Linked DNA regions of Homo sapiens: region 2 is linked to region 1. Evidence: fine-mapped expression QTL. A gene starts in region 1. The other region holds a variant in brackets. All regions are shown on one strand. Distances are from middle to middle. Region 1 holds the start of PTPN13 (protein tyrosine phosphatase non-receptor type 13). Region 2 has its middle 73 kb from the start of MAPK10.

Region 1 (5,383 bases):
AAAACAACAACAAAAAGATGACCTAAGTTTTATAACGTGACCCCATCATAGAATTAAAATCTGACTTTTAAATTGACACTGGTTTTAATGGTGTGCGTGTATGTTACTTGTGACATGAAAAGCCATTTATATTTTTGGATGCTGGTAATCACCCTCCAAAATATAACTAGGCTTTACATGCAAGTAAAAATGGTGGGACAAATGCAAATTCAAAGATAAACCTACATAATGGTAAAGCAAGCTATCATTCTCTAATTGTAAAAGTGAAAAACACTATGAAATCAGTCCTTTTCTTAACAACTAACCTCAAATATTTTTCTGTTTTTAGTTCTAATTTCCATCCTATCCTCTCCCCACACATACTCCCACAAAGCCTCTAGAACATCAAGTAGAACACAATGTTATGAACAAAGTATAATAAACAAGATTGGACGTCAGTCAGTGCGCCTCTGTATAAATTTACTAAATCAATATATGTATGAATTTACTAACAAATGCTCCTAGTGATATTAAAACGAGAAATAATTTGTATATTGGCACCACTACAAGCAGCCAATGAGCATGAAGCAAGTTTTCACCTGGACCCTGCCAACACAGTCATGAAGACTTTAGGAAAATACCTAAGCTTGTTTCATAATACATGCACTTTTACTCCCCCCCCCATCCTTTAGTAAACTTTCTAGATATAAATTTTAAAATCTTAAAATTTATAATTAGTTACCAGCGCCCTTCATCCCACAGATCAGGTGTCCTACATTTTGTTCAGGTCCTGCCTTGAAAACAAACCCGATTGCCCCATTTTCTGCGAGGGAGCTCAGCTCCAGGCAGCTCCCTATGAAGTCACCGCGTTTGTTGTTTCAAAGATGCAATTAAATGAAAATGACACAAGGCTGTCGAACAGATTAGTTGGAAGTGTGCGGTGGTGTCGATCATATACGTGTATGGCCAATGAAAACTGTATTGCTGTAAATCTCTTAGTGATATTTCTCCCCATCCTCCTCTCTCCATTATATTCACAACAGAAGGAAATTAAACTTTGTAAGAATTTTCTTGACTTTGGTTTAACTTTAGCTTCCCAGCTGTCTGCTCTTACAGTATCACGTAATGAGCAAAGCGGTGGGGCTAGGGGGCCGGAGGGTAGAGTGTTAACTTTAGCAAGCAGAAGAAAAGCAATAAAAGACCTTGCATCAGACAGTGTCTCTCCCTCTGCCCCCTCTTCCTCTGCTTCCCCGCCATCCCACCCCCTTCTCGAGCCCTTACACACACATTCTTCTGGGCGGCCTCTAACCACACCATCTCCACAATCATTTGCAGAAATTAGAAACAGACTCCGGGAGCCCTTCCCTTAAGCACGCACAGAGCGGAGCTGTGCAAGCACGACGGGGCAATGTCACTCCCTATTACCCCACAATCTCTTACTCCCCCTGTGGGTTTCATTCCCGAGAATCCGGCTTTCTTCCGCAGAGGAGATGGATCTACCTAATTAGCAATGGAGTTTCATCTCATTCTTCCCCACTCCAGTCACCCCACCCCCACTCTAACGTACAAAAACACCCACCACCAAAACCAAAGAAAAGTTCCTTCTACCAGGGCAACCGAGGAGTTGGGTTTAGGGACTGGAGCGAAAGCAGAGAGAGGAGGAAGAGAACGAGCGCAATGTACTTTGTTTTGCACTTCTGCACATGCAGCGCAGAGCCCAGGGCGGCTCTCGTCCTTACCGGCTGGTCCCGAGACCGGGTCCTGCTACTGGAGCGCCGGGCGAGGGCTGCAGGGACGCGGCGTCGGGGCGGGCCGCCGGCAGCCGCCGCGGGCGCCGAGAGCCACCACCACTTCTCCCACAAGCGGCTGCGGGCGTGGGCTGAAGGAGCTGTAGAAGGAGCCTGGGGAGGGGGAGAAGAGGAGCAGCATCTCCTCCTCCTCCTCCTCGCCTCGGAAACGCTCCCCAGCGGCGATCCCGGCCGACTGCCTGACCCCCGAGCGCTCAACGCACCCCCGCCGCCCTACTGTGCTCGACGCCTCTCCAAGAGCTTCGCCAAAACCTTCTGGCGCGGGCGGCTCAACTCCTGTAGGCGACTCTGACCGCTGCCGAGGCGGACCGGGGAGCTACGGAGCACGGCTCGCCAGCACGACGGTCTCCAGGGGCCGTGAGCATGGTGTGTCACCCTCGCCTCAGCGTGGCCGCTGGAGCTACTCGCACCACTGGGGCTCCACCTCGGGCAGCCGCGCCGGCTCCGCCCCCCCGGTCCTGTCACTCAACCATTCCCCGGCACTGGGAGGACCGCAGATCTCCCACCCCGAGCTCCCCTCGACCTCATTGGCCCGCCTGGCATCCAGCTCCACCTCCTCCCTAGGGACGAGGTCGCCAGGGAGACCAGCGCCCCGGTTGCCATGACAACCAGTGCCTTGGGCCTGGCTTTTCGCGTTCTTCGGACTAGCCAGAGGCTCAGGTTGGTGACCGAGCGGCAGAGTTCCTAGCGCCTGCAGTGTGGTGAACTCCAACTTTTAGGCCAAGTTGAAAATGCAGCCGACGACCCCCACACTTCTAACTTCAGAATCAAAACTATGACCCTAGGGAGTGAGGAGGAGAGTGAAAAATGCGTAAGTGCTGGCTCCTCCCTTACTCTTCGCTGCCTCTCAGCCTTGTTTCTATATTCTCACGGGGCGCTTTGGTCTTTGAAAGGAAGAGGAGAATGGGGGAGAGGAAGAGCATGGCTTTGCCAGCTCCTTGCAGCAATATAGCAACTTAGAAATGGCGGGGTCAACGAAAAAAGCCCGGTGAGTTTTCCCACGGTTGTAAAGCTATCTTCAAAAGTGTGGTGACAGCACAACGCCAAATGCCCTAGGGAAAACTGAAATTCTCATATTTTTGAAAAAAGTTTGTAAATACTTGCCTTGTTATTTTATCTATGAGACTAAAATAATCCCGAAGTTTGAAAATTTAAGGAAAAGGTTTAACATAGTCGATAACCTCCCACTTTTCTATATACACTGAAATTTGGCCAAGGTATATCCAGACAGCTGTACCCCTCCTTGCTGCAAGCCGAAATATTTGAGTTTCAATAGTTAAACAAGAGAGTCTTGCTGAATTCATGAACAAATAATATCCTGTGATTTGAGTTTTGAAAGTTTTGGGTTATTCTCAGAGGTATAAGGTAAACTGGTCCACTCTGGAAAGGGTACCTGAAGATAAATTTAGTCTGAGACCCTTAATGTTGAGCCCTAGGTAAATCTGAATTTCATGGCTGGCTCCAAAGTGGAGAGATCTGAGGCTTATTTGGCTTCCCCAAAAAAAGTCAAAGCAGCAATCCTAGGTTCCCTAGCCCCTGAGGCTGCCATACATGTATGATGAATGAGGGAATTAATAGTAATGATTTATCTTTGGCGAGCACTTGAGTTTTCATTATATCATTTACTAAATGAATAACTATGATAGATATCTTCAGTCAAATATGCCTTACAAGTATGCATTGAATGTGATTACTCATAGGGCTAAACACAACGGAAAATACACAGCAGGATTTTAAGCTAAGTCCCCGCTCCCAAGGAGCTAACCTGGAGCCTAAGAAAGAAAACTAGCACTCTTGAAACAATTTGAGAACAATTATAGCTAAAATGTGCAGCCAAACTTTGAGTAGGTAGCAGCTAAGAGAAAGTTTGCTATGTAAAATGGGCTGGATTCCTCAGTTTATGGAAGAGGGGAATTTACACTGGGCTTTGATGAATGCAGCAAAGATGAGGAAAGTCAGTTGAGGGGAACAACAAAAACTAAACAGCAGCAGCAGGGATAAGTGGTGAAAGTAAATAACAGGCCAGGCTCCTTGGATGGGAAACACAAGTGGATGATTGGAGCCCTTTTCTCAGTTCTTCCCCCATTTTTAAATGTTCTGGATCATCTATCAGGGAGGTAGGAAAGGCAGGTTGGGAAGAACAGAAACTTTCATGAAACATCTGTCTCTGTTTGCCTCTGAAAGAAAGTTCATGTATTTATTGGAAAGAAAAGCAATATCCTTAATTAATGGCTGCAATAGCTTGTGGATTCACATCAGAAAGAAGGTATAGCAAGTATAGTGTTGTAAATTTCCGCAAAAGTAGACAAACCACAGTGTTGTTAGCTTTTTTCCTTTTCTTTTTCTTCTTCGTGTTTTTTTTTTTATTAAGGCCATTTCAGGTGGTTGCCCTCAAGGCATTTTCACCAGTAATCCCTCTGTTTTGGATGAGCTGAAAGACTGGTTTTAAAATACAATCTGTTAAAAAGTACACACAAGGGAAATCTACAGGTTAAATTCCTTTTGGATATAATGTAAAAGTCAATACTAACAAATGGAACCCAGCACTACATTACAAATAATATAACAAAATTAAGAGAAATTATTTCATGTGTATAGTTATGGCAATAGTTCAATAACAGAAAATTTTCTCATATGCTTGATTATATTAGTAAGTCAAAGGAGGAAAACATTATGAGGATCTCAGTTGATGCTGAAAAGGATTTTGTAAAGTCCAGCATCATTCCCAATAAAAATTAGAATTTGTAATAATTTAAATATATATATATGTTATACTAAAGCCAGCCACTTCCTTTATAACATAACATCATAATTATTCCTATTGAAGTCAAGTACAAGGCAAGAATGTTCACCATCACATTGTAACAATAGAAACGATAGCCAATGCAATTAGATATAAAATAGAAATAAGAAATTAAGTACTGTAAATAAGTCAGGGTTGTCATTTGTTTGCAAATAATATGAAAACTCCAAAGCATCAACTGAAAAGCTTTTAGAGGCAATAAAAGATAAATTAAGATAACTAGTTATAAAATTAACATACGGGGGGTGGGGCACAGTGGCTTATGCCTGTAATGCCAACACTCTGGGAGGCTGAAGTGGACAGATCACTTGAGTCCAGGAGTTCAATACCAGTCTGGGCAACATGGTGAAACCCTTTCTCTACAAACAATAAAAAAGTTAGCCAAGCATGGTGGGATGCACCTGTAGTCCCAGGTACTCTGGAGGCTGAGGTGGGAGGATTGCTTGAGGCCAGGATGTCGAGGCTGAAGTGAGCCATGATCCCACCACTGCACTACAGCCTGGGCAACAGAGTGAGATCCTGTCTCAAAAATAACAATAATAATAATAATAAAAAAACATATGAAAATCAAGAGCTTTCTCATGTATTATCATAACCAATTTGAAAATACAATATAAAAAGAATCCATCCCACTTACAGTAGCCACAGAAATTTAAGTAGCTAAAAATAAACACTAAAATAAATTTATAAAACTGGCTGGGCATGGTGGCTCACGCCTGTAATCCTAGCACTTTAGAAGGCCAAGGCAGGAGGGCTGTTTGAGCCTGGGAATTCAAGACCAGCCTGGGTAACA
Region 2 (5,383 bases), 160 kb after region 1:
AGCCAGAGCAAAAGTGACTAATCAGAAGGTAGCCTTTGCTGGTTGACAGGAGCTAATGGGGCTGCATTATTAAATATTTGAGCTCTAGTCATGGCCTGTGGGTGCTCTGATGGCATCACATATTTTCTTTTCTTTTTTAAAAAAATTATTCTTTTTTATTAAGGTAAAATATACATATAAAATTTACCATCTTTGCCTTTTTTTTTGTGAGATGGCGTTTTGCTCTTGTTGCCCAGGCTGGAGTGCAATGGTGTGATCTCGGCTCACTGCAACCTCTGCCTCCTGGATTTAAGCAATTATACTGTCTCAGCCTCCTGAGTAGCTGGGATCACAGGCGCCTGCCACGATGCCCGGTAAATTTTTGTATTTTTAGTAGAGACTGGGTTTCATCATATTGGTCAGGCTGGTCTCGAACTCCTGACCTCAGGTAATCCGCCCGCCTCAGCCTCCCAAAGTGCTGGGATTACAGGTATGAGCCACTGCGCCTGGCCTCATCTTTGCCATTTTTAAGTGGACAGTTCAGCAGTTATAACTACCTTTATATTCTTTTTTTCCCTTTCATCCCCTGGCCCCTTCCTGGCCTCTGGTAAGCACCAATCTACTCTCTATCTTCATGAGATTCACTTTTTAAGATCCCGCATATGAATGTGATATTTGTCTTTCTGTGGTTGGCTTATTTCACTTAATGTAATGACCTCCAGTTTCGTCCATGTTGCTGCAAATGATCAGATATCATTCTTCTTTATGTCTGAGCAATATTCCATTGTGTATATAGATCATATTTTATTTATCCACTCATTCATTGACAGACACAGGTTGATCCCATGTTTGGTTATTGTGAATAGTGCTGCAATAATCGTAGGAGTACAGATGTCTCTTCAATACACTGATTGCCTTTCTTTTGGCTACATACCCAGCAATGGGACCGCTGCATCATATGGTAGTTCTATTTTTTGTTTTTTGAGGAACCTTCCTACTGTCCTCCATAGTGGCTGTACTAATTTACATTCTCATCAACAGCGTACGAGGTTTCCCCTTTCTCCACATCCTTGCCAGCAACTGTTATTGCCTGTCCTTTTGATACAAGCCTTTTAACTGGTGTGAGATGACATTTCATTGTGGTTTTGATTTGTATTTCTTTGATGGTTACTTACGTTGAGCAGGTTTTTTATATACCTGTTGGCCATTTGTATACCTTCTTTTGAGAAATGTCTGTTCAGATCTTTGGCACATGTTTAAATTGGTTATTTGTTTTTATGCTACAGAGTTGTTTGAGTTCTGTACATATTCTTGTTATTAATCCCTTGTCAGATGGATAGTTTGCAAATGTTTTCTCCCATTCTGTGGGTTGTCTCTTCACTTGATTGTTTCCTTTGCTGTGCAGAAGCTTTTTAGCTTAATGTGATCCCATTTGTCCATTTTTACTTTGGTTGCTCATGCTTTCTAGGTCTTATACAAAAACTCTTTGCCCAGACCAATGGTGCATGATAGGGGGTCTAGTTTCATTTTTCTGCATATAGTTCTCCAGTTTTCCCAGTATCGTCTATTGAAAAGACTGTCCTTTCCCCACTGCATGTTCTTGGTACCTTTGTCACCATTTCTTTTCTGTTTAGATTCATGGCGTTAAAGTTTATTGACTACAACTCAATGTCAAATATATATTTTACATCATGACTCTATATTCTGAGTCACATACATACACATCAACTTGCATATATATAGTGGAAATAAAGTTTCAATGGAAAAAACGCTTTTCTCCATGTGATACGTGTGGAGAGTTTCTATTCTATTGTAATTTGTTACATTTTGTTTAAGAAATGGGAGTGGTAGCTCCCTAAATTGATTTCATGGCTCATTCATGTGTCATGAGGTTCAGCTGAAAAACACTAATTTAGATGACTTGAAGGGTCAACCTTCCTCCTTCAATGCTCCCTTGAACTAGAGCCTTGGACTGGGCACAGCTCGGCCTAGTCGTGGTCCAGCAGTTTTTAAAGAAGGCCTAGGCTGGGTGCGATAGTTCATGCCTGTATTCCCAGCAGCTTGGGAGGCTGAGGTGGGAGGATCACTTGAGCCCAGGAGTTTGAGACCAGCCTGGGCAACATGGTGAGACTCCATCTCTATAAGACAAAAAAAAAAAAAAAAAAAAAAA[AG/G]AAGAAGGCCCAGACTGTGATAATATTTTGATCCTGGACCACACATAGGAGGGAGGAAAAAAGTTAAGCAAGAATGTGATCTCAGTTGAAATCTAGTTTCAGGATAATTCCACAGGGAGTTCTAGAGTATTAATTGCACCAAAAAGTTGATCATGCCTTCAGGAAAGGAGTCCAACCTTTTGTATTTTGGTATTAGCTGCAGGTTGGCTCCAGCTGGGGGTCCTGGAGGGCCTAAAACCTCAGAGTGGGGCCTGCAGCATGGGGGTTGGGGAGGCAGCTCCTGTTGTCCAAGGGCAATTACCAAAAGAAAGGGGGCAAATGTGGGCATCAATGGAGTAAAGGGATGTAGGTAGGGGGCATCAACAGTGCCTGATGCAGCTTGCTCCTTGCACTGCTGAAATCCACTTGCTTCTCATATTAACCTCCCTCTGTACAAGTGTGGTTTCTCCAGAATTCTGGCTGGTTACAATTTCTGGAAAAATCTACAAGAGGAGGGTTAGTGGGACAAACTACAGCCCCTGTTGCTACAGTTGATCCTGAGACCATAATTAGTACTCATTATCTTCAGCTTTTACCCTTTGTTCTACTTCCTCCCTCCCACAGGTATGAGCTGGCTAGATGGCCTTTGGTTATGCAAATTAAGGATTATTCTTGTTGGCTGCCTATTTCTCTTTCCCAGAAGAACTTTATGCTTTGTTTGCCATCTCCATTGATCCCTGTGAGTCAAGCCATCTGCCCTTGTTGCCCATTATGGTAACTGTGCCTATCTTGCCACTGAGGATTGATTGCCACCACCTGGCTTTGTTGTTTTGGGCTCCTCTCATTCCCACTACAAGTAGTGAGTGCAGTTCTGTAACAAGTCCTATCATTGGATCCAGCCCTTAGGCCACTCCCTAATGAAGTTCCTGCATGGAAATCTCCATCTTAGAGTCTGTTTTCTGAAGACCCAATTTGTGAGAAACAAAAATGAAATCCTGGCTGGGCATGGTAGCTCATGCCTGTAATCCCAGGACTTTGGGAGGCCGAGGCAGGCAGATCACCTGAGGTCTGGTGTTTGAGACCAACGTAGCCAACGTGGTGAAACCCAGTCTCTACCAAAAATACAAAAATAAAATTAGCTGGGCGTCCTGGTGTGCACCTGTAGTCCCAGCTACTGGGAAGGCTGAGGCACCAGAATCACTTGAACCCAGGAGATGGAGGTTGCAGTGAGTGGAGATTACACCACTGCACTCCAGCCTCAGTGACAGGGCAAGATTCCATCTCCAAACAAAACAAAACAAAACAAACAAACAAGCAAAAAACAATTCTTATGCCCCCAACTGACTGAATGGGCCTCTTCTTGGCCCAGGGGACCCCAGAAAAACCTTGAAAACTGAGTTCCCAGTGAAAATGGGATGGGAGGTTGGACCCATCTCATTAGACCCTCCTGGCTAGCTAACCACCATTAGGCTTTCTTCTCTAGGGGCTACACAGAAATCAGCTTTTTAAAAAGACTCTGCCATTGACATCAACCCACTGCCTGATGCTGCCTCTCCTTTTGGATTTCAACAAAACATCTGACCAGCATTCCTTCCTAATAAAAGACCGCTGTCCATGAAGTGGTTCTGGGCAGTGTAAGGAGGATACACAGAGAGAGTTTTCATGTCCTCTGCTTCACCTTTTGACATCATAGGGCTGAAAACTCCACCCTCGGATCATGCTAATATTGCCATTTTTTTAAACACGGGTCCCATGGAGAGGCATGAAGCTCAATGCGAATGCACATGTTTCTCTTTTCATAACACGACTCTTCCTATAGCTTAGTAAATATGTATATTTGGCCATCCTGCTCAGCATAAATTCCTGTTTCCTTTACTCCTCCCTTGAAGTGCTTGTTTCTAGCTTCTGACCAAAGGCTACGCTGACCAGCCTGTCAGAATGGCCACTCTGCTGGCTGCAAACTTTAACAAGGAGTAAAGCTCCTCTTTCTAATTTAGTTGATACCTGCAACACTGGGTTAAGCCAAATTAAATACTATTTCTATATTTAGGATTTTGTATGTATTTTATGGGAGAATACAATGTGAATTTCCATGAATATAATATAAAATATTTTGTAGAAATTCTGTTTTGTCAGATGACACTTGTCTAAACTGCCAAACTGGCATTCACTTGGACCCTCAATGTTGTCAATATTTTAAGTGAAAAATATCAGTCATTTTAATGTTTAATTCTCTTGTCATGAATATCTTTTCATGTTTATAACGTTTATATATCCTTTTTATTAAACTGTTTATTTGTTCCCATTTTAAAAATTGATTTGTTAGTCTTATTGATGTATAGAAGTTCTTTATATATTATTGGAATTAGCTCTTTGCCTGGTATGAGTGTAAAATATTTTTTCTTAATTGTCATTTGACTTGAAACTGTTAAAAGGTTATCTTCCTTTTCTTTTTTCTTTTCTTTCTCTTTTCTTCCTCCTTTCCTCTCTTCCTCTCTCTCTCCTTCTCTTTCTTGCTCCTTTCCTTCTTTTCTACCATCTTTTCTAGCCTAAGCCATTGCAATAGCCTTCTTATAATAATAGCCTGGCTTTTATTCCTGTTTCTGTCAGTTTTTTCCCCATATAAACAGCCAGAATAATTTTTGAAAAGCATACGAATATTTCACACAACTGCCTCAAATATTTCAATGGTTTTTCCGTTGTTCTCAGGGTAAGGTCCTATATTGACTTACAAGACTTCTCTGATCTGGCGCCCCATCTACCTCTGTAGCCTCGTTTGCAGCCACTTTCTGTATCGTGACGTTTTTTCCCTTTTCCTCTAATGTGCCAGTCCCCTTTCCTCTCAGGGCCTTCACATGTACTGCCACACCTCTTCATTCACCTATAATTTTGACTGGACAATTTTTTGTTCTTTAGGTCTTAGCTTAAATGGCGCTTTTGTAGAGACAATTTTTGTACTCCTTAGATTATATGCCTTTCTTGCAATCCTATAATAGCCTTCATAGCTCTTGACCCAACTCTATGGTATATAACTACTCGTTTATTTAAATATCGGTATCTCCTGCCAATGTCTAAACTTTGCGCTGTCAGGAATTCTCTCTCTCTCCTTTTGTATTTCTAGCACCTACCAAAGGGCCAAACACACAATGGATACTTGGTAAATAATTGTTTAAAATATATTGGTTGAAGGAAAGAAAAAGACTTGAGAGTTGGGCGGTAGACAAAGACTTTAGTACCGTGCCAATGAATTCATA

Evidence for each region. PIP is the estimated chance that this variant, and not a neighbour inherited with it, causes the effect. A credible set is the group of variants that fine-mapping cannot tell apart.
Region 2: its variant is the best candidate, but not a certain one, in a credible set for the expression of PTPN13 in whole blood (INTERVAL, PIP 0.76).

Annotation. Positions count from the first base shown.
Region 1 is chr4:86,591,125-86,596,507 of GRCh38, reverse strand. It overlaps PTPN13 (protein tyrosine phosphatase non-receptor type 13), which reads right to left and starts at 2,193. Exons shown (of 48, transcript NM_080683.3): 1 at 1,719-2,193. It also overlaps a transcript of MAPK10 not described here. RefSeq lists an enhancer at 1,956-2,542.
Region 2 is chr4:86,430,323-86,435,705 of GRCh38, reverse strand. It overlaps a transcript of MAPK10 not described here. Among named protein-coding and RNA genes, the nearest start is that of MAPK10, 73 kb to the right of the region's middle. RefSeq lists an enhancer at 2,511-3,053. The variant AG/G (reference allele first, on the strand shown) is at 2,150.